Linked DNA regions of Homo sapiens. The protein of the gene in region 1 interacts with the protein of each later gene in a pairwise test. Each region holds a gene or a part of one and is shown on either strand. Other genes may lie near its edges.

Evidence for each region.
Region 2: the proteins of MAP3K5 (region 1) and YWHAH interact in binary tests that used the Homo sapiens proteins (3 or more experiments, as listed by UniProt).
Region 3: the proteins of MAP3K5 (region 1) and GDAP1 interact in binary tests that used the Homo sapiens proteins (3 or more experiments, as listed by UniProt).
Region 4: the proteins of MAP3K5 (region 1) and KLK6 interact in binary tests that used the Homo sapiens proteins (3 or more experiments, as listed by UniProt).

Annotation. Positions count from the first base shown.
Region 1 is NC_000006.12:136,558,467-136,565,489, forward strand, and holds part of MAP3K5 (mitogen-activated protein kinase kinase kinase 5), read right to left. Parts: intron 4,150-7,023; coding exon 4,037-4,149; intron 3,180-4,036; coding exon 3,067-3,179; intron 411-3,066; coding exon 334-410; intron 1-333. UniProt on the Homo sapiens protein: Serine/threonine kinase which acts as an essential component of the MAP kinase signal transduction pathway. Plays an important role in the cascades of cellular responses evoked by changes in the environment.
Region 2 is NC_000022.11:31,947,528-31,954,550, forward strand, and holds part of YWHAH (14-3-3 protein eta), read left to right. Parts: exon of another isoform or gene 1-1,625; intron 1,626-5,876; exon of another isoform or gene 5,877-5,979; intron 5,980-7,023. UniProt on the Homo sapiens protein: Adapter protein implicated in the regulation of a large spectrum of both general and specialized signaling pathways. Binds to a large number of partners, usually by recognition of a phosphoserine or phosphothreonine motif.
Region 3 is NC_000008.11:74,345,713-74,353,416, forward strand, and holds the start of GDAP1 (ganglioside-induced differentiation-associated protein 1), read left to right. Parts: upstream 1-4,690; 5' UTR 4,691-4,749; coding exon 4,750-4,866; intron 4,867-5,559; exon of another isoform or gene 5,560-5,561; coding exon 5,562-5,754; intron 5,755-7,704. UniProt on the Homo sapiens protein: Regulates the mitochondrial network by promoting mitochondrial fission.
Region 4 is NC_000019.10:50,966,592-50,974,161, reverse strand, and holds the start of KLK6 (kallikrein-6 isoform A preproprotein), read left to right. Parts: upstream 1-4,570; 5' UTR 4,571-4,672; intron 4,673-5,394; exon of another isoform or gene 5,395-5,570; 5' UTR 5,571-5,621; exon of another isoform or gene 5,622-5,645; intron 5,646-5,808; exon of another isoform or gene 5,809-5,889; intron 5,890-6,049; 5' UTR 6,050-6,057; coding exon 6,058-6,097; intron 6,098-6,665; exon of another isoform or gene 6,666-6,836; coding exon 6,837-6,993; intron 6,994-7,570. UniProt on the Homo sapiens protein: Serine protease which exhibits a preference for Arg over Lys in the substrate P1 position and for Ser or Pro in the P2 position.

The DNA.
Region 1 (7,023 bases):
CTCCTCCAAATATTTATTGAGTATAACACCATCATGAACTCAATTAAAGCATTTGTTTAAGGCAGCTTCAGAATATCTGCATGGACTTAGTCTGCATCTTATTCAAAAAAATTCTTCCAGTTGATTTTCACTTACTAATATAGAAATATTGGTTATTAGAGCCCTCAAAAATATCATTGTCCAACTAACTCAGTTTACTCAGAGCAGCTAAGAGCTAGAGAGCTCTGTCCAGAACTACAAAGCTAATTAGAGACCCAGCCTGGGAAGATACTCAGACTTTTTGATATTTGCCTGGTGCTCTTTCCATAGTGACAACAGAAAGAAAAGTGGTACCTTAGTCTCAAGCATTTTAAGTCATCACGTGTAACATAGTAGAGAACATCCAATAGTGTATAATCTTCAGCCAAAAACTGTAGAGAAAGTAGAATATGCACAAAAGATGTTTTATATAACTTTAATAAAGCACAAACTCTATTCATAATGTAAACCTTGACTATAATTAAAAATGAATCTAAAAATGAAATCTACTAAAAACACAATCTTCCAGGATTATTAGGGGAAAGGCCTCCCTGTTACTCAATAAATACAAAGAAATGCATCCAGGCCGGGCGCAGTGGCTCACGCCTGTAACCCTAGCACTTTAGGAGGCTGAGGCAGGCGGATCATCTGAGGTCAGGAGTTCGAGACCAGCCTGGCCAAAGTGGTGAAACCCCATCTCTACTAAAAATACAAAAAATTAGCTGGGCGTGGTGGCGTATGCCTGTAATCCCAGCTACTTGGGAGGCTGAGGCAGGAGAATCGCTTGAACCCGGGAGGCAGAGGTTGCAGTGAGCTGAGATTGACCCACTGCACTCCAGCCTGGGCGACAGAGTGAGACTCCGTCTCAAAAAAACAAAAACAAAAACAAAAACAAAAACAAAAACAAGAAATGCATCCATATTAACTTCCAAATGCAAAAAGATTACAAGTGACACAGAACTTCTGAATGGTCTTCTAATGAACAGATGAGACTCACTTGTAATCACTCTGCTGTTCAAAAGCAAATCTTGTATTTAGAAGTTCAATGCTACATAGCTTTGTTTTTCCTCAAGTGGATAAAAAGTGTTCCTGGAAAGGTACTGCCTATGCTTAATTTCTGAACTTATTTTTTCATGGTTAAGCAAAGGCACTTGACTGTAATTCACCATAAAAGCAGAGTCTTAATTTAAACTGCACCTTTATATTTTTAAATTTTATTTATTTTTTTATATATAGAGACAGTCTCACTATATTGACCAGCCTAATCTCCAACACGTGGCCTCAAGCAATCTGCCTATGCTTCCCAAAGTATTGGGATTACAGGCAGGAGCCACTGCACCTGGCCTCAAGCTTTTACTTTTAAACCAAATAAAAAGGGTGATTATTTAGTAGATTATCAATTACTATTCCTTAATTAGGATTTGAGCCTAAGTTAGAGGAATGTATATTCTGGAGTTGTTTAAATTTATTCAGCTGTAACTTGTTAAATGTAGATTTCTAAGGCGGCCCGAAATTCTACTTAGTTAATAAATTATCAAGTCAAAAGAAGAGATATCTTTATTCTTATTTATTTTTAAAATTTAAATATAAAACAAAACAATATTGTATTAAGAGGGTCTTTCTATCAAATATTACAATGTTTTAATGTATGCCTGTGTGTTCATATAATGAACATAAACAAATGCTATTCACGCTCATTACAAAAGTCTATAGGGGCTGGGCGCAGTGGCTCACACTTGTAATCTCAGCACTTTGGGAGGCTGAGGTGGGCAGATCACTTGAGGCCAGGGTTCGAGACCACCCTGGCCAATATGGTGAAACCCTGTTTCTACTAAAAGTACAAAAATTAGCCAGGCTTAGTGGCATATGCCTGTAATCCCAGCTACTTGAGAGGCTGAGGCAGGGAATCTCTCGAGCCTGGCAGGCAAAGATTGCAGTGAGCTGAGATCGCACCACAGCATTGCAGCCTGGGCGACAGAGTGAGATTGTGTCTCAAAAAACAAAATCAAAAAAAGTCTATACAGAGCAGAGAGGAATTAGATTATTACAGGTAAAATATGGTTTGTATAGAAAATATTTCTGAAATAAGTCGACCAGATTGATTTTATTAAGTAGCAATAAAATAGCTGCTGCCCAGTGGAATCTAATAATGTTGAAAAAGAATTAAAAATTTAACAAACAGGCCTGGCGTGGTGGTTCATGCCTGTAGCCCCAGTACTCTGAGAGGCTGAGGTGAGAGAATCGCTTGGGGCCAGGAGTTTAAGACCAGCCTGGGCAACATAGCGAGACCCTATCTCTAAATTTTTTTTTTAATTAGCTGGGTATGATGGTTCATGTCTGTAGTCCCAACTATTCAGGAGGCTAAGGTGGGAGGATCACTTGAGCCCAGCAGGTCAAGGCTGCAGGGAGCTATGATCACTGCCCTCCAGCCAGGGTAACAGAGCGAGACCTTGTCTCCAAAAAAATATAAAATAAAATAAAATAAAATAAAATAAAATAAAATAAAATAAAAATTAACATACAAAGAATTAGAAACAAGAAATTTTTTCTTTTAGTCCTGTCTTTATTTTTTTCCCACTCTTTCTGGTTTTCATTTCAAATACATAAAATTCCTAAGGGGCTCAGGACCACAGAGCTTTTGCCTGCCTCGTTGGATTGTACACACTGCAGCCCCACTGCACAAGGTTCTTCCCTGGTCTCCCTCCCACACCCCTCCTGAACATACATACAATTGGCCTATTTATACCCTCACATTCTGTTAGCCTTCAGCTCTTTCATTCCCTTCTCCAACAACCTTCCCCAACCTCTCTCGCCCTATCTAATAAACACCTGATACCTTTTTCTTCATAGAATTTACCAGTGTAGAATCACATTTGTATCTGTGGAGTTAGCTGATTATCACGTGCCTACCCTGGTCTGTAAGCCTCAGGAGGGCAGGGCTGGGTCTGATTTGCTCACCAGTGTATCCCCTGTGCCTGTCACATAGCAGGCACCCAACATTATGAAACGAAGTGAAAGAATACTTGTCCCACAGACAGTTTTCTTTACCCGGCTTATAGTGTCTTCATCAGCTCCATTCACTCTCAGCCAGTCGGTAAGTTCAGAATCTTCAGTATTTGTGCCAGAAGAATTTAGATGAAATACAGGCAATTCAGGAATTTCTAGAACAGAATTTTGGGAAGATATTCTTAATTTCACCTAACAGAGGTCATCTGAGACCCTCACAATCAACAGACATTTATTGATACTTTAAAAGATTTTGCTCTATCAGAGAACAGTTCATAGAAACAATTGAGATTGGCAGTATAGATGATAATATGAATAAAACTCAGAGAAGTGAATTTACTAGTAAATAAGGAGCAAAAGCAATAATGAAATGACACTCCTACGTTACACTTTCATATCAATTTTATGGTTTCTTAGAATAAACTCTGTGCACCAAAATTAGACTTTGTGTTTTTCATGCAATAAAGATGAATACAATTAGCAGAGAACTATATAATTATCATAATCTCTTTTTCCACTATGAAAGAGCCACATATCTAAACAAATAACTATGAATTCTGTTTTCCTCTAAATGGGCTAAATAACATTCTCCCCAGCTATGCCTTTTTACTACTACATCTTTATTCTATTTAAGCCTCTTCAAATTATAAGGAAAAAGGCTAGAATACACAGAATATAAATGCAAAATGACAAAAAATAGTATTATTTATTCTAGTAAGCTCATTGTGAAATCTTTAAAAATAAAGACTAAAAACAGAGAGCCCTGTTTACCTCAGTAATACATAATCTCAGGAAAAGATGATTATGAATAATCTATTTTTACTGCACTTATAAGAAATGAGTTTGCTACAGTTAAAAACTGGATTTTTTTTTTTTAAAGGAATTCCTGCTTGCAGTCATGGTAGAAGTGAGAAATGCTGACTTAGCCACAAATAAAACTTCCTGTTGGCTTTCTTGGCTTTTTGTGGCAGCCTGGCTGAACAGTATTACTATAAAACTTTCTGCTATTCACCTATGGGTTGGGACTTAAGCTTCAGGTGTTTAATTTCTTGGTCTTTTTCTTCAATAGCTCGATGAAGGAGTGCTTGTAATTCTTTCTCTTTCCGAACCAATTCTTCCAGTAATCTGCAGAAGAAAAATATATTGTTTGACAGGAGGTGACACAGGGTGACCTTCTTTTTTTTATTTTTATTTTTTTAGATACAAGGTCTCTCTCTGTTGCCTAGGCTGAGTGTAGTGGCCCAATTATAGCTCACTGCATCCTTAAACTCTTGGACTCAAGCGATCCTCCCATCTCAGTTTTCCAAGCAGCTGGGAATACAGACATGCACCACCATGCCTGGCTAATTTTTTTTTTTTTTTTTTTTGTAGAGACAGAGTCTTGCTATGTTGTCCAAGCTGGTCTCTGAACTCCTGGCCTCCAGTGGTCTTTCCACCTCAGCCTCTCAAAGCTCTGGGATTATAGGTGTGTGCATGTGCCACTGTGCCAGGCCTAGGATGACCTTCTAGACATGAGCTATAATAAGCACATACACCCCTAATTTTATTGAAATACAGATACTGGTCCAGTGCCCCGGGGGTGAGTTCTGAGACTGTATTTATAATGAGCTCCCAGATGACACTGATGTTGCAGGTTCACAGACCCTCAGGTCCAGAAGCTAAGCTTTGGAAGACTGTGCTTGCCGACAAGAATTCAAAACCTCCACCACAGATTGTCTGCCAAAATCTTCAGAGATGTGTCCTGATATTTCTTGTTATGACCATAAATGTCAAAGATATAAATATGGGATACAGATATTAACAGGCCTATATTTTACATGTATGGACCCCCATTAAAAAAAGTTGGCAAATGTGCATAATTTCATAATCAATGCAAATCAGAAAAGTAATCACTTTTTGTAAACTATGAAAATTTGAGAAACAGTCATAGGTGAGGTCGCCTAGAATATCTGGCATATAACAAATTCTCAGTAAATGTTCACGGTTGTTGCTACAATTGTGATTGTTACTATTATTCCTCTTCCTTCTAAGGGGGCGGGGGTGAAGTGGGTAAAAGGATAGCTGTGTTCCTGGTACATTCAGTTCCTAGTTGGCATCTGATGCAGTCTCCAAAGAAACAAGGAGAAACTGTGATATTCATACCAAAGTTCTTACCCATAGAAGGTTCACTATGCAACTGAGAGCCAACTGGTAACCTACTCACCATTTCCAATAGAATTTCTCAAAGAAAACATTCCAAGTTATGAAAAGAGGTGCTCTAATTTTTTAGAAAAGTATCTTAATGTAAGTTGGATTCAGAAATAATAATTTAAAATATATCGTTATTAAGATTATCAGGATAAATCGTTGCATAAACTACAGCTCTTAACAAACTCTATTTGTTTCATTTTCTGAGTATTGATAGATTTAACTCAAGAGTTTGTTTCTGCTTCACTTGACATAATCTGAAGGCAGCATCGTGCAACTGACAGATCTGGGCTTGTGTCCTGGTTCAACCCTGCACTTCCTGTGTTAACCTTAGATAAATTACCTAATGCCTCCAGGCTTCAGTTTTCAAATCATTTGTAAAAAAGAAAACTAAAGCTTCCAGAAAAGATTATTGTGAGCATTAAATGAGACAGCATAGGTACAGTGCCAAGTCAGTGTCTGGTCTTTAATAAGGGATGTTCTGTTCCTTGCTACCTCAGTCCCTGGAAAAGAGCCTTTCCAGGACTCAGTGGGAAGGAAACCTTCCCAGACCCCCAGGCTCGACCCCATTCCCACAGGACATAAAGATGAGATCCTCAGAGAGAAGGGATCACAGCAGAGTAGGTAGCAGAGGTGGGACAAAAGTAAAACACAATAAGAGGTAGACAGAGAAGGTGGGTGGAGGAAAATAAGTTAACAAAGACAGCTGCAGGGTAAGTGTGGTGCACAATGAGGTGGATGAAGCAGCATGAACTGAAAGCTAGAAGAGGGAGCACAGGGTCTTGGAGGGAGGCTTCTTATCTCTTTCAAAACAAATATTATCCAAAGAAATGGGCAGGAAGCTCTGTGTGAATGTTTAAGTTGGCAGTTTTTTGATCTGGTATGTATTTTTGTCCTACTTGCTAATTTATACGTATAAGACAGTGATGGTATCTTCTTACTGTTTTCTCAAGGAACACAGTGATGTTTTCTAGAGTTTAACCTATGTTTGTCTAGACTATGTAATTTCTTTTTATCTTTTGTTAAAGTGAATGAAATATGGCCTGAGAAGGACTCCGTACTTGCATATTTGAGTCCTCGTGGACAAACTATAACTTAACAGGTAGACAAGATTGAAAACCTAACTTAGGAGTATGCGTCTATAACAATAGCTGAGTCTTGGCTAATCCCAGGAGCCATACTTCAACCACTCATACACTGCTGAGTGTTCAAATAAGGTGAACGCCAACCCATAACAAATCCAGCTCTTTCTGCACACTTCTGATTTCTGTACGTCACTTTACTTTTATTTTCTATAAATTTGTTCTGGCCACGAGGCATCCCTGGAATCTCTCTGAATCTGCTGTGATTCTAGAGGCCACCTGATTCACAAACTATTTTTTTCTTTTTCAATTAAACTCCATTAAATTTAATTTGTCTGAAGCTTTCTTTTAACACCTTAAACACCAGAACTTCAACACTGGAAGCAGAGTATTGACAGCCCACCTCATTTGCTCCGAATCCAGCTCTTAGAAGTATTTATCTTAAGAACAATCCAGTACATCAATTTTATTTTTATTTTGTGTTTATTTAGCAGGGCAATATTTTGAAATCAAGGCAACTGTCTGCCTTTCTGTTCCAAAAAAGTATGGCAGGATCTGCCATGAGGTCAATTTTTAACCTTGGATGGGCAGGGGTGATGAGGTGGATTGGTGGGTAATTCCAGAACTGTAGGATGGGGAAATTAAATAAACAGGCAGCTCCTCTTGAGACAGGTTTTTGTTTTTGTTTTTGAGATAGGGTCTTGCTCTGTCACCCAGGCTGGAGTGCAAT
Region 2 (7,023 bases), on another chromosome or scaffold:
TGCCTCAAACCTGTTGAGAACTTCTCTTCCCTGCTTCTCTCCATAATTTGAAGAAGCAAGAAATGTTTCTGAAGTGAAGCATAAAGGAGTATCTTCAAGCTCTATCTCATACCTACCAGCTTGCATAGAGTATAATAGTGGGAAGAAATATTGTGAAAGATTCTAGAACCTAAGTCCTTTCTAGGCTAGGCAATTCTAGGCTACACAATTCGTAGTCTCTGTAAATACCATTTGATAACTGAAATAAACCTATAAAGTGGGATTAAATGTTAGTCCAGAAGACTAAGTGATTTAAGGAAAGAGGGAAAATAACCAGATAGATTTCTGGTGGATATTCATAGACAGACATAATTTCATCATGTATTATGGCCCTAAGTCATCTATTTTATATTAAAACATAGATGGTAACTGTAAAGTTATCAAATGTAAAAATTACTGGGCTAGCATTGTGTTTTAACACTGATACACCAGTTGATTACAGTGTTGACAGAAAACGGGCAGAAACACGTTTAAAGTACCTGCAGAATATATATATAGAAATCTTTTTTTTTTAATCAGTGTTGACCAGGTTGGCCTCGAACGTGTAGCCTCACCTCCCCGAGTGCCAGGGCAACCGGCCTGAGCCACAGCGGCTCCCTAGAAATCTTAAGTGCAGGAAACAAAACTACAGTTTAAGGAAACAGGAGTCGGAGAGGAGGGGCATTTGGCCCAACCACTGGCAAAAGGCTGTTGTTGCAACAACTGTGAGATTCTGGGAAGTGGGGAAATGAGCAGGTGCTGTGTAAAAGTGCACAGCTGACTGCCCCAGGTGAGACAGATCAGTGTCACAGAGAGTAGGAGGATTTTGAGGTGTGATTAGTATTTTTTTTTTTTTTCTTAAAGAGATGGTCTCGTTCTGGAACCCAGGCTGGAGTGCAGTCGTGGCACGATCATAATTCACTGTAGCCTTGAGCTCCTGGGCTCAAGTGAACCTCCTGAGCAGCTGGGACTACAGATGCATGCCACCGTGCCCAGCTAATTATTAAATTGTATAGACAGGATCTCTATATGGTACCCAAGTTGGTCTCAAACTCCTGGCCTCAAGCAGTCCTCCTGCCTCAGCCTATTAAAGTGCTGGGATTACAGGAGTGAGCTACCACACCCAACCAGTAGGAAATCTTAAAGCCACATTGATACTACAGTTTGAAATATGTAAAAACTAGGGAGCTATGTTTCCCACTAACTGGGCATTTAAAATGTAATCGTCTTTGAGGAAGGAAGAAGGCTCTGGATTATTCTTGTAATAGTTTGAATTTAAAAGGTCCTTTCAGGTGGGCAAACAGCTTACGTGGCTTTCTTGCACTGAAATAGAAACTGTAGTCCCCATGTGGGTTTGGGTCCCTGAATTATCCCCAGAAGAACTTCCACAGTCCGGAACTGACTCCCTTAAAGAAACCAAAAATGTATTTTCTTTGGTGGGGATTTTCTTTAGTTGGTCTTTGTCTGGGATTTTATATCAGTGACAGACTGTAGCGTCACACTTTTCCAGAAATACGGTTTCGGAGAGGGTACCCCTAACGTTTTATGTGTGTGTGTGTTACATTTAGCAAGTTTATATAACATATTTTACTTTTTTTTTTTTTTTTTTTTTTGAGACAGTTTCGCTCTTGTTGCCCAGGCTGGAGTACAATGGAGCAATCTCGGCTCTCTGCAACCTCTGCCTCCCGGGTTCAAGCAATTCTCCTGCCTCAGCCTCCCAAGTAGCTGGGATTACAGGCATGCACCACCATGCCATGCCCGCCTAATTTTGTATTTTTAGTAGAGATGGGGTTTCTCCATGTTGGTCAGGCTGGTCTTGAACACCCGACCTCAGGTTATCCACCTGCCTCGGCCTCCCAAAGTACTGGGATTACAGGCGTGAGCCACTGCGCTTGGTTAGAACTTATTTAACTTTTTAGGCACTTGGTAAACGGTAGCTGTTAGTCCATGTGTACTTTTTTTTTTGGTGGGGGGGGGAGTCATGCTCTGTCACCCAGGCTGGAGTGCAGTGGCAGGATCTTGGTTCACTGCAAGCTCCGCCTCCTGGGTTCACGCCATTCTCCTGTGTCAGCCTCCCAAGTAGCTGGGACTACAGGTGCCCGCCACCTTCCATGTGTACATTCTTGTTTAACAATTCAGGATAGGTACTGTTACTCCCCTTTACAAATGAGACTTTCAGAGGTTGATTTTCTCATGGTCAAACAGCTAGTAAGTTGTGAATTCAAGATTCAAACTCAAATTTAGAGCTCTCATTTTAACCACTATGTAACAATGCCCCATGAGGCAAAGGGATAATATGTCTAGTATACATTCTGGTATATTAACCATTGTCAGCACTGGTGACTGAAATCCAAGAACTCTTCATAAGTGGGCTTACTAAACAAATAATTTTATCTGTTGGGTGCAAGTCATTTTTTTTTTCCAAATACGATTAAGAACAATCTGCCATTTATGGGTTTTAGCTACAACAGAGAAACATAAGAGGGAAACTCACATATCTGGATTTTGCTTGTTCTGAAGGCTTGGAGGCCTTTTTTTTTTTTTTTTTTTTTTTTTTTTTTTTTTTTTTGCTTAACAAAGTATTGAATTTGAGTTTCTCCTGAGTTAAGAAGTGCAGGACTATGTTACATTTTATTTGGGGTATTTTAAGAAATTATTTCATATTCTTGGCACCAGTTGTTTCTCCATATTGCCTTTAATGTATTTTTCTCCCTGCACCCTTTAGTATATTTTTATGCAGGCCCCAAAATTTCTGTCTCTAGGTTGCTGGTAAAATTCCTCCTAGTGTCCAAGTGGAGGCAGCTTGTCTTCTGTCCCAGCATTTTGGTGCTCCTCCCGCCCCTACTCCTGGCTGCAGTGGCATTCCCTTCTGCGGTGGTGAGTGTTAGCACTTCCAATGATCCGAACCTGGCACAGCTTCTGAAGCCTTCAATTCGGATGCCTCTAGGGACAGTAGCATGCAGTAATGCCATTCAGATGGTGTTGTATTTAATCCTTGCCAATCCCCATGAAAATGTTCAGTTATGTCAAAAGCAAGGCAAAAACAGTCTCTTGGCTATACAAGGGTAGCTGTTTTATTTGACTAAAATTTAGCTTAGAGTGGATGTTACTTACCCGAACTTGCCTGCTCTGAGCTTGAAGTTTAGCCTATTTGTGGTCTTACAGAATTGCAGCCTCATCCTGGTGAGGATAAGGGGCTCAGCCTGACCCTGGCTGGTGATGTTCTTGCCCAGTGGCCTGTAGGACTTGGTCTGTTGGTGGATATCTTTCCAGCTTGGGGCAGGCCAGGCAAGATCCTCACTTCCTAAGCATTAACTTGGGAAAGAGCTCAGCAAGCTTTCATCCCTCTAGCTCATTTTTTGTTTTTTTGAGACAGAGTCTTGCTCTGTCGCCCAAGCTGGAGTGCAGTGGCACAGTCCTGGCTCACTGCAACTTCCACCTCCTGGGTTCGAGCGATTGTCATGTCCCACCCAAGTAGCTGGGATTACAGGTGCACGCCACCATGCCCAGCTAATTTTTGTATTTTTAGTAGAGATGGGGTTTCTCTATATTGACTGGGTTGGTGTCGTACTCCCTGGCCTCAAGTGATCCGCCTGCCTTGGCCTCCCAAAGTGCTGGGATTACAGGTGTGAGCCATCACACCTGGCCCCTCAAACCCTCAAACTGACTTTTCTCACACAGACACACACACATACACGTACACACACACTTCTGCCAAAGAAGCTTAAAGGTTTTATGATGTGGTTATGTTTACTTAATCATGAGAATCATTTACTCATATCAAAAGCAAGCTGGTTGATAGCATGTAGGTGTGGGTAGCTATAAAGGATGAGCCCATAGCATGTGTGGAGCTGTGAAGGATGGCAGCATATTCGAGTGAGGTAGCATTACCCCTAACTTAGGCAGCTATGGCCTGGCAGCTCGGGGGTGGCATTTTTGTTTGCTCAGTGTTACTTTTGATGTTGGATGTTTCCCAGATTGAGAACTTTAAATTTTCCTAAATAGTCCCTGTACTGTTTTTGGCAGTGGATCTATTTTTACTCACACACATAGTTTTTTGCCTTGTGAGTAGTGGGTGGAGGCCCTTAGGGGTTTTTGGGTAAATGAATAGTGTCATAGGAAGATAAGTGAATGATCAGCAGGCCAGGTCATTTTTGACATTTAGTAATGTTGGGGGTAGTCCTGGAGCAGAGAAAATGTGTGAAGTGAGTGCCCTGGGGTGGGGACTAGGTGTAGCCAAAGGCTGTTTGGTCAGGACGTGAGTAAAACTGGCTGACAGGGAAGTCCAATCCTTAAAAGAAATGGAGAGGAGGGCCTTTGTGCATGGGAAGAGCCCATCAGTTTAAGGTTGTCCTTCAGGAAGGGTGTAAGTAGGATTACAGAGGGTGGGAAGGCAGGCAGGACACCTAGAAAGCAGAGAGGCTGTGAGCAGGGGTGGCGAAACCCCTGGTTTGTGGCCCGGTGAAGACTCAGTGCCTAGTGTGGCTACACTGAGGGAAGGTGCCGTGTGGCAGAAATGACTGTTGTAATCTTGGTGTTAGAGCGGAAAGAGGCTGAAAACTATTGTCTAGGCCTGTCTGTAAAATTCTGTCTTGTTGTTGCTTCATGTTCCTGATTTGTGGAGATGCAGCAAATGTGATTTCATTAGATTTTGCAGATGATCTTAGGTAGCATGGTCGGGGCCTGGAGAGCATCCATTACTCTGTGTTGCCACCCGGTGTTTGCCTCTCAGTACAGTTTATGACTGAACTTTTCATTAGTTCTCCTGGCTCCTGTATTTTGGTATTTGAAGTGTTGGGAACTGGTGCTAAGTATCATCCATCAAGATTGGCTATCCATCTTTTTGTTTTAATGGACTGTCTGATTTTACATGGGTCTATAATTTTCCAGTCTGGGAAAAACTCAGTTTTCTTTAGTTATCTGGTCAAGTAGTAAGCCATCTTCATTTCATGTTTCCTTTTGTTAACTGAATTATAACCCAGGAGTATTAAAAAATACTGTATTTAAATGTATCCAGTTATTTCCTAGTTAGGCTCTGGCTGGGGTATTAGGAACAATATTTGCTTGCTGAGATATGTTAGTCACCCTCAGCTAATGCTGATAGTGATTCATTCAGACTGGCAGGCAACCAGATGATTTTTACATAAACACTAATACTCCCAGTAAATGATTTTTCTTGTGAAGGTGTCATCATAAATACTGCCCAGTAGCCTTTTTTGGCAGCTTATTCCTGATGGAGAAAGAATATGCTTACAGATACACCCAAACTTCACGTTAGTAGGAAGCCCTGCCACACCTTTTATTGGTGCACAGGAAAAACGAAATCATGGAACATTGGAGCTGAAGGAGGCCTTGGAGATCATTTGGGCTAATCCTGCTTATTTTACTTTGGATGTCCAAAAAGGTTGTGATTTGTTTAAGGTCACATAGCTAGCTCAGACTAAACTTCAGATGTCTTGGGTTTAATAATTATACCGCCTTTTGTGTTATGCAAGCATTCTGTATTATACATACATGTATTTCAGATTTGTACTCACTTTAAATGATATACTCTGGGAAGTTACCTTGGTGTATCTTTGCCAGTTTCACAGAAGCAGCTTTGTTAGTCACAGGAGGAAGTATATTGTGACTCCTTATGGATATTATTTGTATTTTAATGCCAAATGGCCTTAGTTTAATTACTACAAGATGAAAGGAGCTCTCCAAATTCTGTTGTTGCCTTATGCTTTGTTTTATTGAATATTGCTCTAGAAACGCAAGTCATTCTAGAGGATTCAAGCATTCTGAAATTTATCAGAATATTTGGGATGGAATTTTGATTCAGAAGTGTTGTTCGTTAAAAGACTAAGTAGTTACTCATCTTTTTGTAGTTCATAAGTGTGATGATTGGGTTTTGACATGCAGGTGTGAGATGTGCCACCCTCAAACCTTGTTACAACATAGACATGTGACCCTCTGATGTGGGCAAAAAAAGACTAAGTTATTAAATATTTACAAAGTCTCTATTTTCCGTAAGAAAATGTATGTAAGTGTTTAAAGGCACTTACTGGAGGAGGAAACTAGTGGGGTTATAGGTGTTCAGCTGGATTTAAGGGGAGCATGGATTGTAGATTCATGGTAGACTGGGGCAGATCACAGTGAGAGGTATGGAGACTACTAATGAATATGTGAGGATGAATAATGAGAACCCTGGCTTGACCAGAGTGGAGGCAGCACCCCTGGGGAATGGTCAGGATAGCTGTTAGCCAAAGACCACACTGAAGAAAGAAGTGGGTAGGCAAAGGAGAGACTTTGCCTGTGTTAAGGGTTTGTAGCAGAAGAGTAGGGGTCCTGGGGACAGGGAAATGGAGAAATTAAGAGTGAGCTGGTATTTTTATTTTGTCTGGGGCTTGGGGGTAGGGAGGACTCAGACAATTGCTTGTTTTACTTTGTGAGAACTTGGCACGTTTTCTGATTTTTACCTGTAATAATGATTACACTTGCTGCTTATGTCCTTGAACCACTAATTCCCCAAATAAACCATCATTGTTCATGATTTCTGATACTCCACTGCTCAGTCTTCTCAATCCATTTTAAGTGTGTCTATTTGAATATGCTATTGATAACTTTCCCCAATGAACTTGGCCTTTTCCCTCTGGAGGTTCTGTCCTTACAGATTGGTTTAAGTAATACCTTTTTTGTTTAGTGTTTTATGGTTTCCTAAGTGCTTTGCTTTCTTTTTTTTCATTATTGAAATTAAAGACCTTTTGGATAAGCAGAGACTGATTTAATAAAATTAAAGACCTTTACCAGTAGGTCATATTAAGGAATCCCTCTACTTTAGACGACACACCATCTTTTAAGGGCTTGTGAAATGTCCTGGGTCAATTTAGGAAGTCATTTTCTTTGCTTGGGCCCAGACCAACTCTGTTAGCAACTCTGTTAGGAACTCTTGTTAGGAAACTCTGTTAGTTTCCTAGGGGGTGCTGAACCTAGTACGACAAACTGGATAGTTTAAAATAATAA
Region 3 (7,704 bases), on another chromosome or scaffold:
TTGACAAGGACTTTAATGGAACAGTATCCATCTGCATGGACTCATTTTCAATAAGGTGGCTGTATTTTTCTCCAAAGTCCACCTCAGGCTGGTTAAAGTTTGCAAGTCCACAACTTTCTCTCTTTGGTTTAAGGCTAGCATAGTGTAGTAGAAGCTAATACTTGACTAGTAATCAGAAAATGTGTGTCTGAGATGTAGTTCTGTCACCGGCTCCAGGATTTTGGACTAGTATTTCACTTACTAAACCTCATTTCTTTAGCTATAACTGTAGTGGAAGCTCTTCTAATTTAGGGATGGTAGCTACCTCACAGGCTATCATGAAGATCAAATGAGATTGTAAGAAAGCCATTTGCGATCTTTAGATGCAGACGTTCTACTTTATACCTTTTCTTTATAAAGTATTAATATTGAACATCAGTGCAGTCATCAGTTCATCAGTGTTTACTAGTTCATGGTTTTGCTGCTGGGAATATGTGCTAGAGAAAGTGCTCAGTGTTTGATAGTGGGCAGATTGACCTGTGCATATCCATGTTCTTCCTAAGGATAGTGAAGAGAATGAAAAAATAATAAGCATAGTGGGTGTCTCGGAAATGGAGAAGGAAGCAAAAGCTGATTAGGAAAGTAAAAGGTACCGAAAGCAAATTAGTATGCAAATTTACTCATTCACAAATTTACCCAGGGTTCTCTTTCTCCTCATCAAAACAATTTATTAAATACTAAATAAGATAGATACATTCAATGGTATAGTAGTAAATATTTAACAACCAACTTTCTGGGAAAAAGTTAAACATGATAGCATTTACCGATTTCTGTAAATAGTTCTACCATGGCCAATTTCAAGTCACTAACATGACATCACTGAACAGAGAGGAAGAGATATGCAAGTAGCACATCCTTATATACTGTTTGCCTTGTATGGATATGATAGACACAAATAAACTCAGGAGTATAGATAATAATACACATAATTAGGAAGTGATGAGTTTTAAGTATTTGCTAGTTTTATTTTTAAAATTATTTATCTATTTATTTATTTTTGAGATGGAGTCTGTCGCCCAGGCTGGAGTGCAGTGGCGTGATCTTGGCTTACTGTAAGCTGCGCCTCCCGGGTTCACACCACTCTCCTGCCTCAGCCTCCCGAGTAGCTGGGACTACAGGCACTCGCCACCACGCCTGGCTAATTTTTTAGTAGAGACAGGGTTTCACCGTGTTAGCCAGGATGGTCTTGATCTCCTGACCTCGTGATCCGCCCACCTCAGCCTCCTGAAGTGCTGGGATTACAGGCATGAGCCACCGTGCCCGGCGGAAATAATTCATTTAAATGCAACTCAGTTTGATTTAATTTTGATTAATAGCTGAGTTGAACATCCACTTTGCAAATTCCTGAAAATTTAACAATCAGCTATCATGAGCCAGTGGGGGCACCACCCTGGATATAATGGTAATTGTGTTAGTATGGTACTAGTTATGGTAAAGATTATCACCTCTTCTGGGAAGCCTATCTGTGTTAGGTGCCTTTCTCTATATTCCTACTATAACTTTCTAGATGTCACAGCAAGTACCACACTGTGTTGGGATCTCATTTCTCTGCCTTCACACTTGATTTCCCTAAGGCCAGTGACTGTGACTGACTTTGAACTCTGTATCTTCTCTATCTAGCACTTAAGGCTCAAAAAATGTATATTGAAAACAAATTTACCTGGACCTGGCTCCTGTCCTCAAGGAGCCCACAATGATCATGTCTATGATCTACAAAAACCATAGACACAGAATACACAGTGTAGTAGGAGCTCTGAATAAACATGTGAAAGGATAATAAGGTTTTTATATTACCAACAGTGGCTTTTATTGGGATGGGAAAAAAGTGATTATAGATCATTGGAAGTAGATGTAGCAGTTCTATTGTGATAAAACAAACACATTTTTCCTTATGTCATCTATTTAATGATATTCTTTTAGTGTTCACACCTTTAACAGGTAAAAGCAACACACATTCATTATAAAACAATTAGAGTATACAGAATCATAAAGAAATAAAAGCCACCTATATTTTACAAGATTGATGTATTGATGAGGATAGGTTAAGACAATAGCATCCAGAAAGCACCAAATAACAGTGCCTTACACAAGATCCTTTTTTTCCTTTTCAAGTAAAAGTTTGGAGGTTTGCAGACCCAAGTTGGTGTGGGTTCTGCTCCTCAGTGTCTTTAGAAGCTCAATTTTCCCCAAGTTCATGGCCCAGCTGTTCCTAAGGCGTGGCCCCATTCTTCATGGTCCAGGTCAGAATCCATCCTCTCTGAAGCAGGATGGAGGATGGGATGAAGAAGAGGCACAGGGCTAATTGTCTCTTTAAGAAAGATTCCCAGCACTTGCCCTGTGGCACATCCATGACTTTCCCCTTGTTAGAAGATAGTTAGGAGACCATGTTTTGCTGCAATAGAGCCTAGGAAATACAGTCTTTATTCTCAGCAGTCATGTGCTCAGCTAAAATTTCTATTACCACGGAAGAAGGGAAAAATAGGTAGGATCAACTGTCAGAATTTGTCAGAATTATTTCCTTAAATTGCAAATAGAGGAATTTCTAGGTTAGAAGTTATGCCCATTTTCACGATTCTTGAAGCATATTGATACATTTGCCTTCAGAAGTTCTGTGCATGTTTACACTCCCAATGAGATCTATGAATGCTTTGTACTAAACACCAAGTAATCAAGTCATTCAGTGTTTCTTCTATGGCTTTGCTGTGGGCAGGATGTGATGGAGAAAAGTGTTGTGTTTGAGGGACCAGGGCTTTATTGTCAGGACTTTTTCAGCTGCAGGTGACACATGGCTTATCACGAGTACTGGAATTTATTCAAATATTTAGGATGATTTAGTATTAAGGTTGGTGCAAAAGTAAGCGTGGTGTTTGCTATTGAAGGTAATGGAATAGAAAACTAGGAATCTGAAGGTGGATAATTAAAAAATGAAGTTCTGAAGAGGAATGGGAGAGGAGGATTATATGGGTAGTTGTAAAAATTTTGAGACCTACAGAGAGAGGATGAAATGTAATATAATGCCCTCCTAATGTCAGTGAAGGGGCTTTTACACATATGTTTTTATCAATGGCTACATTCCAGGCAATACCCTAGGTGCTTTATATATATCCTTTCTTGAATTCCCACAGCCATCTGGGTAGGCATATAATTTTTATGTATCCATTTTTTACACACAATGAAGTCAAAGCTCAAGAAAGCTCAAGTTAGGGTAGAGCTAGAATTTAAACCCCACTCTGTCCGATTTCAAAGTTTTCCTCTTTCCGCTCTTACTCTTAAGTGTGAACTGATAAAAACAATTTTGGCAAGGAATTCACCTTTTCTATAGCACTTGAATTAACTGAAGGATATAAAAGACATTATGAAATCTTAAAAAATTATGAAAGAATTACAGAGAGTAACAAATGAAGTACTGTAAAGGCAAGGAAGAACCTCATGAGATTTTGTCTTTTCCAGGGGCCCTTCTCTGACCTGGGTTGGCTGCCTGCCCCTCCTTTCTCATAGTACTCTGTGTTCACCCTAAGACAGTTCTCATCTTTATTGTGATTGTCTATTTCCTTGGTCGTCTCTACTGCCAGATTATATCTTGAGTGTTAGATATTAGATTTCACACATCTTTATATTACCAGGAGCCAGCACAATGTCTGGAACAGTGTAGGTGCTCAATAAATATTTGCCAGATAAATTATACAGGCATTTATTCTATGGTCATATTTATACATATTACTGAAAGAGATTTTTAAAATCAACTTACTATATGATGCCAAATTTTTAAAGACATACAATAATAACTAGACTAATATAAAATTATGATTCTGACTATGGTTATAACAGAATGTTTATAAGACAACTGAACCTGTGACTAAGACTGAGTGCCTACAACGTGACAGGGTGTTCTGAGTGTTTAACATTTTATTATTAATTTTTCACAAAAATCTTATGAGGGAAACAATAAAATTATTATTCTTACTTAGAAAATGGAAAAACCAGGATATGAACTTAGGCAGTACTGTTGTAGAATTTTTGTGTTTAACAACTAGGCTATTTTATATCGCCATTGTTTATTAGCTGTTTATGACAAAAACAGTTTTTTTGCATGACTCCATAGTGGTATTTTTTTTTCTTTTACAAAGCACAGTTTAATTATCAAAATCAAGTACTTACTGTTTATACAAGACTATTCTCTAATCTACAGCAGTTAGTCAAATTTGTGGAATTAGTCCACTAATGTCATAGTAGCATCTTCTAATGAAAGCTCATAGATCCTTTTCCTGTTGCTTTGCTTGTCGACCGGAACTTCCTTTCCAACAAAGGAACAGGCTCCAAGAGCAACCCTCAGTATCTTGGGAAATTGCTGCTTTTATACCTGAGCAACCTCCAAACCGAAGAGTAATTTGCTATCATCATTCTTCCTTACTGCCCTTCATAACCAGGGTCTCATATTTTTTATTTTTTCTTCTAAAAAAAAAAACAAACCCAAAAAACAACCGTTCAATTGCACCTCCCAGGTGCACTCCCAGGCTTGCCAGGGGCTTTCCAGTCGCAGACCCCGCGTGTTCGCAGACTCTGCCGCCGGCGAAACTACATTTCCCAGCGGGCCGCGCGCCCTCCTTCCGGCAGGTACCCCTCAAAACCCGGAAACGCCTTGCGGGGCAGTGTGGGAGGGAGAAGTCCAGGGCGGACAGGCTGGGCGCACCCGTGCTCGCGCACCCCAAGATGGCTGAGAGGCAGGAAGAGCAGAGAGGGAGCCCGCCCTTGAGGGCGGAAGGCAAGGCCGACGCGGAGGTTAAGCTCATTCTGTACCATTGGACGCATTCCTTCAGCTCTCAAAAGGTACAACAGGCCTTGGCGGCGGAGGGTGGCGCGGATCGGGCTTCAGCACTGGGACAGCTCCTTCTGAGTCCCGCCCAGGGAAGCCGGTCCACCTAGAAATCCGCCTCCAGTGTCCTGACCCCGGGCAGGCGCTCCCTCCAGGCGGGGACGCGCCCGGGTGGGGAGCGGGGAGAATCGATCGGAGATGATCCTATGTGGCTATGGCCCAGGCTCCGCCTCTCGCGAAATGCGACAAAAAAGCATCATTTTCAGTATTTGGTCTGGAGGCCTTGCCTGCTGGTCTTCGGAGAGAGGCAGAGGGAGGTGCCTTTGTGGACCCTCATAATCTGCGATCTCTTCTTTTGCTCTCTCGCATTCACTGTCTTCAGCAAGAGCTGATGTACCTACATGTCAGGTTCTTGTCTGGGGAGGACCCATAATCAGGTTTAGGACACCGAGAAAGTGGTAGTGATGAGGAGGGTGACTGTTTAATGAATACAGTCAGAATCATTTCATTACTTATTTTGTGTTCTTCTCTTAATTTGTTGAGTATTGTTCTTTCCTTACTTGTTAATTCCAGGAATAGGAATTGTTAAAACGACTGTTGAAAATGTCGGTAACACAGGGAAGCCCAGAAAGGCTGCTTAGCGGTGTCCAGGGAAGTCATTTAATTGAAAGCTTACATGTGTTGTAGTAACCAGTGTGAACTCTTCCAGGTGCGCTTGGTAATTGCTGAAAAGGCATTGAAGTGCGAGGAACATGATGTAAGTCTGCCCTTGAGTGAGCACAATGAGCCTTGGTTTATGCGTTTGAACTCAACTGGAGAAGTGCCTGTCCTTATCCACGGGGAAAACATAATTTGTGAGGCCACTCAGATCATTGATTATCTTGAACAGACTTTCCTGGATGGTAATGTTAAGGCTACTTGCGATTTCTTGGATTTACTTTCAACACAACTATGTGTTCCCTTTCTCTTTTTCTCTCTCTCCTCTCTCTCTTTCTCTTGTGTCATGATGGTGGTTTGGGATTAAAAACCTTTTCCATTTCCATAAGCACACAAATATCAAATAGGTCAATAACAAATTTTGTATAGGCTAGTGTAATGCTATTTAAAATAATTTAATGCAAAATACAAATGTTAATGTTGAAACTTAAAAAAATTCACTTGCAAAAAACTGCAAATGTGTGGTTTGTGTTGGTGATTTCTTAGTCTTAAATTCATAATATTCTAAATGTGCACTGTGACGATTTCATCTAATATACCAAATGGTTTCACCTTAAAAACAAGAGGGAAAAAAGAGCAATAAATCTTAAAGGAGAATAGAATGTTAGTATACCTGAGTTCTTTGCCCCAGTCACTTCTGAATTGTTTGAATTTTATATCTTTACTAAGGAATTATAGGGCTTAAATTTGTATAGTGCATTTAGGTAAATCATTTATTAACAGCTTGTTATGTGTCAGACATTTTATAATTTCTTCAATAATGTCTTCAAAAGTATCTGTCTGAGACAGGCATGGTAGACAAGTTATTCCCATTATGTAAATGAGGAGAAAGCAACAGGGTTGCCCAAAGTAATATAGCTATTGTATGGCAGAGTCTTTGGTCTCCAAAGCCTTCATACTACACTGACTGTCTCCCATAATCCTTGCCACTTACACATTGTCTTGCTTGTTCCTAATAATAATCCTTTGAAGTGAACTGTAGCTTCAAAGAGTTACCAAAGACTACACAGCTGATCACAATGGACATTGATGAGAGCAGAACATGGTGCTCAGAGCTTCCAGCTGAATGCTCTTCTAAAAAGGCTGTATGAGATTGTTACTTTTCATCTGCCACCAGTTATGTTGATGTTAATAGGGTAGGTGAAAGCAGAACCTAGCCCCAAACTACAGGAAGCTGACAAAGGAAATTACTAGGACAAAAAAAAGTCTCATGTACTTAGAAGGAAAATGAGTATTATTAGGCCTAGATGGTGGGCAGTGGCGAGGGGGAAGCCCAGGGAATTAGATTAGCAATGGGCTACCCCTGTTCTTAATCTAAGTGCTAGTCCCCTAGGATTGTGATTGGCGGTTTTAATTAAAGGTAGCTTTAGCGTAAACCAAAGCATTTAATGATGTACTTTCTTTTCATCTTTATTTGCTATTCCTTATAAATTTATATGCTGGGGACTGTACTGAAAATGACAACTAGTTCATTTAAGAGAATTTTTCTCAATCTTGAGCTTTTTGGAAATGGATAAGTGTGTTAATTTGTATTTCTTGGGGGATGTAATTATAATGGAACAAAACAAAATAATTGTGTTAATAAATCTATTTTAAATGATCAAAAACTTTAAAAAGGTATTCTAAATGGAAAATCCCATTTAAGTTTTTTGGTAGCATTGCCTGAACTGCTTCTACTATCATCATTCCCCTCCTCCATCCCCTCCTTACACTGTTTTTCCTCTAAGAAATTCAGTGATATAAATTATATTTACAACATAGTAATGTTACCAATTATTAGGTTTTCTTACAATTTTCCTTAGTCTTTCTCTTTTGCTTTTAGTACAGAATAGTAACAAAGCAGAAATAAGTTCTGTGTCCTGCTAAGTTGTATTTAAATAACCAAACAAAGGAAATGCTAAGTTCTTTTGATTACTTAAGAATTAGAAGAGAAGGCACTGTAGGCTGTGACAGGATGGAAATATGGAAAGTGCAGACTTTAATTCTGGTTGAACTATTATTGTAACTCAGCAATCAAGAGTCCTAGCTTTTAGTCTGATGCTGCCACTAACTTGTTGAATATCTTTCAATCAATTGGGAAGGACGAAAAAACGATTAAGGGACCCAAAACTTATGGTAGATAGGACGACAGCAAG
Region 4 (7,570 bases), on another chromosome or scaffold:
GGCGCGATCTCAGCTCACTGCAACCTCTGCCTCCCAGGTTCAAGTGATTCTCCTGCCTCAGCCTCCTGAGTAGCTGGTATTACAGGTGCCTGCCACCATGCCCGGCTAATTTTTGTATTTTCAGTAGAGACCAAGTTTCACCACGTTGGCCAGGCTGTCCTCAAACTCCTGACCTCAGGCAATCTGCCCGCCTTGACCTCCCAAAGTGCTGAGATTACAGGCATGAGCCACCGCGCCTGGCCCAGGCATTGGTTTTTATTGTTTATGACTTCTGGCACTTTTTTCTGCTTACAGTCTCATGAAGTTTCCTTATAATTTTTTTTTTCTTTTTTTCACATAGGGTCTTGCTCTATCATCCAGGCTAGAGTTTGGTGGCATGATCATAGCTCACTGCAGCCTCAGTCTCCTGGGCTCAAACAATCCTTTTGCCTCAGCCTTTCGAGTAGCTGGGACCATGCCTGGGCTGATTTTTTTTTTTTTTTTTAGTAGAGACGGGGTCTCACTATGTTGTCCAGGCTGGTCTCTAATTCCTGAGCTCAAGTAATCCTCCCACCTCAGCCCTCCAAAGTGCTGGGATTACAGGTGTGAACCACTGCACCGAGACAGAAGAATTTATTTAGTGAAGAGTTTTGCAGAGCAAGACAATCTGGAGCAAACTATCCAGTAAATAAGCATTCAAAGTATGCAGAGATGGCAAACCATGAAGGTCACCAGAGAAGAGGTAGAGTTAGAAATTTCTTTCTCTTCAAAGTCCCTCCACTCCCCACAGCCTAACACCTCCCTTCTTTCCCCACCCAGCTCTCAACAATTCCTCCCAAGTTCACTCACCTCGTACTGTCATAAGATAGACCCAGCCAGGCCACCAAGGGATGGGCCACATCCACGCCATGTTGGAAGCTGAGTTCCCATTCAGGCTCCACCATTTCCTGGATGTTTGATGATGAGCAATGAACTTCCCGTTCTGAGCCTCAGTTTTCTTATCTGTAAAATGGGAGTGGGTGTGATAAAGTCATTTAGTCATTTGGTCAGTCTTGCCTAAGGCTTCTTCTGGGCAAGGTCCTGTGTGGTTGCTTGGGACACAGGGATGAGTCAGTCCCGTACCTGCCCTCAAGGAGCTCACGGTCCAGTGGAAGAGATGACGAATGTCAATCCAGGTGGCCCCCCGTCCAGGTTGGGTTGAGGGAGACACCTGCTGTGGGAACCTACGTGAGAGAATGAGTAATCCAACTACAGCAGGTGGCAGCTGGGTGGTGTTCAGGGAAGGTTTCCTGGAGGAGGTAATGTCCAAGTAAAGACTTGAAGGACAGGTTATTGCCAGGAAAAGGTGGGGAAAACATGCTAAGAAGAGAGAATAGGCCAGGCACGGTGGCTCACGCCTGTAATCCCAGCACTTTGGGAGACCGAGGCAGGCAGATCACCTGAGGTCAGGAGTTCATGACCAGCCTGGCCAACATGGTGAAACCCCATCTCTACTAAAAATATAGGCATGGTGGTGTGTGCCTGTAATCCCAGCTACTCGGGAGGCTGAGGCTGGAGAATTGCTTGAACCCAGCAGGCGAAGAGAGATCGCGCCACATCACTCCAGCCTGGGCGACAGAGCGAGACTCCATCTCAAGAAGAAGAGGGAATAGCATTCAGTGAAGGGCCAGAGGCCAGAGGGCATGGCATGGGTCAGGGAAGCTTGATGTGTTCTAGAAAGCTGGAGCCACACGGAGACGTAGACATAGCTGTGTCATGCAGTGTGAGGGCCACTCACCACTCAGGACTCCTTTTAAAAAAATTTTTGACAGGGTCTGGCTCTGTCACACTGAAGTGCAGTGGCGTGATTATGGCTTACTGCAACCTGGGCCTCCAGGCTCAAGCAACTATCCCACCTCAGCCTTCTGCATAGCTGGGACCACAGATGTGTGCCACCACACCTAGGTAATTTTTTTCTTTTCTTTTTTTTGTTTTTTTTTTTAGAGATAGGGTCTCACTATATTGTCCAGGCTGGTCTCGAACTCCTAGGCTCAAGTGATCTTCCCACCTCTGCCTCCCAAAGTGCTTGGATTACAGGCATGAGCCACCTTGCCCAGCCATGTCAGGCTGGGGTGCAGTGGTATAGTCACAGCTCACTGCAGGCTCGACCTCCCAGGCTCAGCAATTCTCCCGCCTCAGCCTCCGGAGTAGCTGGGACTACAAGTGTGCACCACCACATCTGGCTAATTTTTTTACTTTTTGCAGAGATGGTTTCTCACTATGTTGCCCAGGCTGGTCATGAACTTCCGGACTCAAGCTATCTACCCACCTTGGCCTCTCAAAGTGCTGGGATTACAGACATGAGCCACCATGCCTGGCCTTAAATTTATTTTTTAATTGACAAGTAAAAATTGTATATATTTCTGGTGTATAACATCATGTTTGATATATGTATGTATATGTTGTGGAATGGCTAAACCAAGCTATTTAACATATGCATTATTTTACACCCTTATTTTTTGTGGTAAGGACACTTAAAAAATCTTCTGACTTAAAAAAAAAAGTATGGTGATTGGAAAATGTAAATGTGCATGCGTGCTTGGCATCACATTTCATTGGCCAGGACTTCCCTGGATGCTAAAGGTCCTCAAATGCCAGGCTGGGGGGCTGGGACTTGGTCCCAAGGGAGATGGGGACCCAGGGCACGTCTGTGAGAGGAGGGGCAAGGTCAGCACAAGGCACAGGAAGGTCTCTCTGGGGCAAGGGATACAGAGAACAGAGGGATCCTGGTCCAGGTGGGAGAGGTGCAGCTCTGAGTTGGGGTTGAGGGTGTGGGTACAGAGAGGAAGGGACCCCCCAGAGAGAGGAGGCAGAGGGATAGGGCCTGGTCACTGGGTTGTGCAACATCAGACTTGCTGTCTGTGAAGATAGCACGTCCTGAGAAGAAGGTGCTGAGGTCAGTGGGGACCAAATGTGAGAGGGAGCACCCGGAGAGTATACTGAATACCGAAGTAGTCTTCATCCCTGGAGTGATGGGGGGTGCACAATGCAAGATGACAATTAGATTCAATGCAAGACAAAGAAAAGGGTTGGCTGGGAACAGTGGCTCATGCCTATGGTCCCAGCTCCTGGGAAGACTGAGGCGGGAGGGTCGCTTGAGCCCAGGAGGGTTGAGGCTGCCACGAGCAAGGATCGTGCCACTGCACTCCAGCCTAGGCGACAGAACAAGACCTTGTCTCAAAAGAAAAAAGAACTTTTTTTTTTAAGTTACCTGTAGTGCCCAGCCCAAGCAGGTGCTGAGCCAGACTTCATTCCTATCATTGTCCTTATTACGCAGTGACTTCCCCCTCCTCATTTCTCTCCACTCTGCCACGCACACACCCTCACCCTCCAGCCCATACCAACCACCCCAACCACTGCCTGTGGTTTCCCATGTGCACCCAGGCCAGGCATTTTCACGGCCTTTCCTCCTGACCTACGCCTGGCTCAGCTTTCTAGGCCCAAGTTCAAAGACACCTCCCTAAATCTTCCCAGATCCCTCTGCTACTGCCCAGCACCACCATCTTATCACAGCCCCACGTCGTTCCCAAGTGCTCTCCGATTTCTGCTTAACTCCATGCCTCTCGCTGTGTGTCCGCATCTCATCAATAAGTCCTCAAGTCCTCTTCCATCCTGCTAGCTTCCTCATCGCTCGGGAATCATCCCCGCTACTTCCTGGGGAAACTGACTCCCTTCTGGGCACACACAGTGCTACCCCCGGGGAAATCTAAGAAGAGACCCAGGAGAAGATAAGCACGGAGAGTCAGAGAATCAAGGGGAAAGAAAGGGAGAGAGGCCGGGCACAGTGGCTCACACCTGTAATCCAGCACTTTGGGAGGCCAAGGTGGGTGGATCACCTGAGGTCAGGAGTTTGAGACCAGCCTGGCCAACATGGTGAAACCTCTTCCCTACTAAAAATACAAAAAACATTTAGCCGGGCGTGGTGGTGGGTGCCTGTAATCCCAGCTACTTGGGAAGCTGAGGCAGGAGAACTGCTTGAACTCAGGAGGCGGAGGTTGCAGTGAACTGAGATCACACCACTGCACTCCAGCCTGAGTGACAGAGCAAGACTCCGTCAAAAAAAAAGAAAGAAAGAAAGAAAAGAAGGAAGGAAAGAAAGAAGGAAGGAAGGAAGGGAGGAAGGGAGAGAGGAAGGGAGAGAGGAAGGGAGAGAGAGAAAAAAAGAGGGAGAGAGACACAAATACAGAGACTGAGATGGGAGAGAGAGAGAGATGGAAGCTCCCTCCCCTCCATGGCCAGGGAGACAGATGGAGCAAGAGACCTCAGGGGTGGGCAGACTTGGAGGAGAAGGACCAGGAGGATGTGGAGTGCCGAAATCTCCAGTCAGGGCCAGGTGGGCAGTCAGAGACTGCAAAGGAGGACTGTCAGACAGGGACAAAAGGAAGCCATTGATGTAACCGCCCTCCCGCCTGCCCGCCGGAAGAGAGGTTGAGGCCGGAGCTGCTGGGAGCATGGCACTGGGGTGCTGGGGGCGGACAAAGCCCGATTGTTCCTGGGCCCTTTCCCCATCGCGCCTGGGCCTGCTCCCCAGCCCGGGGCAGGGGCGGGGGCCAGTGTGGTGACACACGCTGTAGCTGTCTCCCCGGCTGGCTGGCTCGCTCTCTCCTGGGGACACAGAGGTCGGCAGGCAGCACACAGAGGGACCTACGGGCAGGTGTGTGAGTCACCCCAACCGCACTGAACCTGGGCAGGCTGCTTCCCAGTGCCGGAGGGCTCTAGAGCCCGGAGTGAGGGCCTGCAGGTCCCTGGGTGGCACAGAGAGTGCTGGGGGTGCAGGGAGGCCTGGGGCACCATCTGCTTGCCCCAGAGGCCGGAATTTGTCTTCAGACACTTTCTTTCTCCAAAACCCGGAGGTCTAAGGACTGAGCCGACTAGAACTTCCTCTGCCTCAGATTCAGGCCCCAGCCCCTCCTCCCTCAGACCCAGGAGTTTAGGTCCTAGCCCCTCCTCCCTCAGACCCAGGAGTCCAAGTTCCCACCTCCTCCCTCAGACTCAGGAGTCCAGGCCCCCAGCCCCTCCTCCCTCAGACCCAGGAGTCCAAGTTCTCACCTCCTCCCTCAGACCCAGGAGTCCAGGCCCCAAGCCCCTCCTCCCTCAGACGCAAGGGTCCAGGCCCCCAGCCCCTCCTCCCTCAGACTCAGGAGTCCAGGCCCCCAAGCCCCTCCTCCCTCAGACCCAGGAGTCCAGGCCCTCACTGCACTCAGGGACCAGTGCTCCCTTCCCTGGAGGCCTGGTCAGGGGTCACCAAGAGCAGAGCGTGGGGGCGGGAGGAATGTGTGTGGGAGGCCTGGGTAAGGAGGAAAAGGGTGTAGCCAGTCTCCTGGCTCAGGGACCTGAGAGACAGGGGTTAAAAGGACGTTCCAGAAGCATCTGGGGACAGAACCAGCCTCTTCCAGGGAGGCCTGGGAGCTGGGGGTGTGTGTCTGGCAGTCCCTGCAGCCCTGGGCTCTGCGGCCCCTGCGTCCTCCGCTTGGCTCTGCCACTGCATCTGAGTGTCTTCTCTCCTCACGGCTCCCCGCATTTCTAACTCTTTCTGCCTCCTCGTCTCAAAGCTGTTCCTTCCCCCGACTCAAGAATCCCCGGAGCCCGGAGGCCTGCAGCAGGTGAGATCACAGACATCACAGAACCTGCCGGGTGGGCGGGGTGGGTGGCCATTGCGCACAGAGCCAGGCTCCGAGGAAAACTCCCATACAGAGGAAGAACGCTAGGGCCCCCTAGGGTAACCCTCTCCTGTCGACAGGAAGGCAAATCAGTGCCCAAGAAAGTAGAAAGATCTAATCAGAATCTCACCATGGGTTACTGGACCAGTGGACGTAGTTCTGAATTCTCTTTGGCACTGTTTTCGTGGGATCCTCTGATGGAAGATGTGGGCTGAGGAAGAATAAATCAGGAGGCTAGATGGGAAGGACAGAGGTCAAGGCAGGAGACCATAGCAGGCCAGGAAGGAAGGAGAGGATGCAGAGGGAGCAGACAGAGGGATGGGGGGAGGGTCGAGGCAGTGACTAATGGACCATGTGGCTTCCCCTCTCAGGAGCGGCCATGAAGAAGCTGATGGTGGTGCTGAGTCTGATTGCTGCAGGTGGGGAAAGGGCATTTGGATGGGGGAGGCTTGCAGACAGGGTTGGGCTTGTTGATGGAGAAGAGGCTGGTATTGGGGATGGGGATATGCACAGGGTTGGGGTGGGGGAGCTTTGAAATGAGGAAGACGTTGGGGATTAGGCTAAGGGTGGGGAATACAGATAGGGAGGGTGGTGGGAGGTGGGTTTGAAGATATGAGGGTTTGGGGTGGGGTTGGCTTTAGGGATGGGGATCTAAACATAGAAGAGGTAGGAGGTAGGTTGGAAAGTTGGAGAGAGCCCGGGAATAGGGGATACAGTTGGGTTTGTAATGGGAATGGGGTAAGTTTGGGAGTGGAAATACAGAGAAGCTTTTTTTTTTTGAGACAGGGTCTCACTCTGTCACCCAGGCTGGAGTGTAGTGGCATGATCCATAGTTCACTGCAGACTTGAACTCTTGGGTCTCAAGTGACCCTCCCACCTCAGCCTCCCAAGTAGCTGGGACTACAGGCGTATGCCACCATACCCTGCTAATTTGTGTGTGTGTGTGTGTGTGTGTGTGTGTGTGTGTGTGTGGAGATGAGGTCTCACTGTGTTACCGAGGCTGGTCTCAAACTCCTGGGCTCAAGCGATCCTCCTGCCTCAGCTGGGATTACAGGCATAAGCCACTGCACCTGACCAATCTTGACTGGAGTTCATGTTGAGGGGGATGCGCTTGGTTTCTCCAGAACTCCTCTCTGACTCAGATCTTCTCTCCCTCAGCCTGGGCAGAGGAGCAGAATAAGTTGGTGCATGGCGGACCCTGCGACAAGACATCTCACCCCTACCAAGCTGCCCTCTACACCTCGGGCCACTTGCTCTGTGGTGGGGTCCTTATCCATCCACTGTGGGTCCTCACAGCTGCCCACTGCAAAAAACCGTGAGTCTACACTGTAAATGAACAGCAGATGCGACTGAACCCTGAGGGTGTCTTATAGATGTCAGGCAGGAGGTGACATAGGCATCCCCCCCATCCCAGCACGAGGCCATCTGATAGCCAGGTGCATTCGGCTGTTGCTTAATTGAGTACTTAATGTGTGCCAGGCCCTGCGGGCATAGCAGTGGAAAAGAAAATAAAAAAAAGAAAACAAAAAAAAACAAGCAAAATTGCTGTTTTCCTGAACTTACTTTCTAATGGGGGAATTGGATCATTTGGGGACCTGCAGGGCGTGATGGGCATTTGGATTTAATTCTGAGCACAGTAGGAAGCCACTGGGCAGTTTTGTTTTTGTTGTTTGTTTGTTTTTTGAGACACAGTCTCGCTCTGTCACCCAGGCTGGAGTGTAGTGGCATGATCTCAGCTCACTGCAACCTCTGCCTCCCAGGTTCCAGCGATTCTCCTGCCTCAGCACCCCAAGTAGCTGAGATTACAGGTGTGCACCACCTTGCCTGGCTAATTTTTGTATGTTTGGTAGAGACGGGGTTTCACCATGTTGGCCAGGCTGGTCTCGAACTCC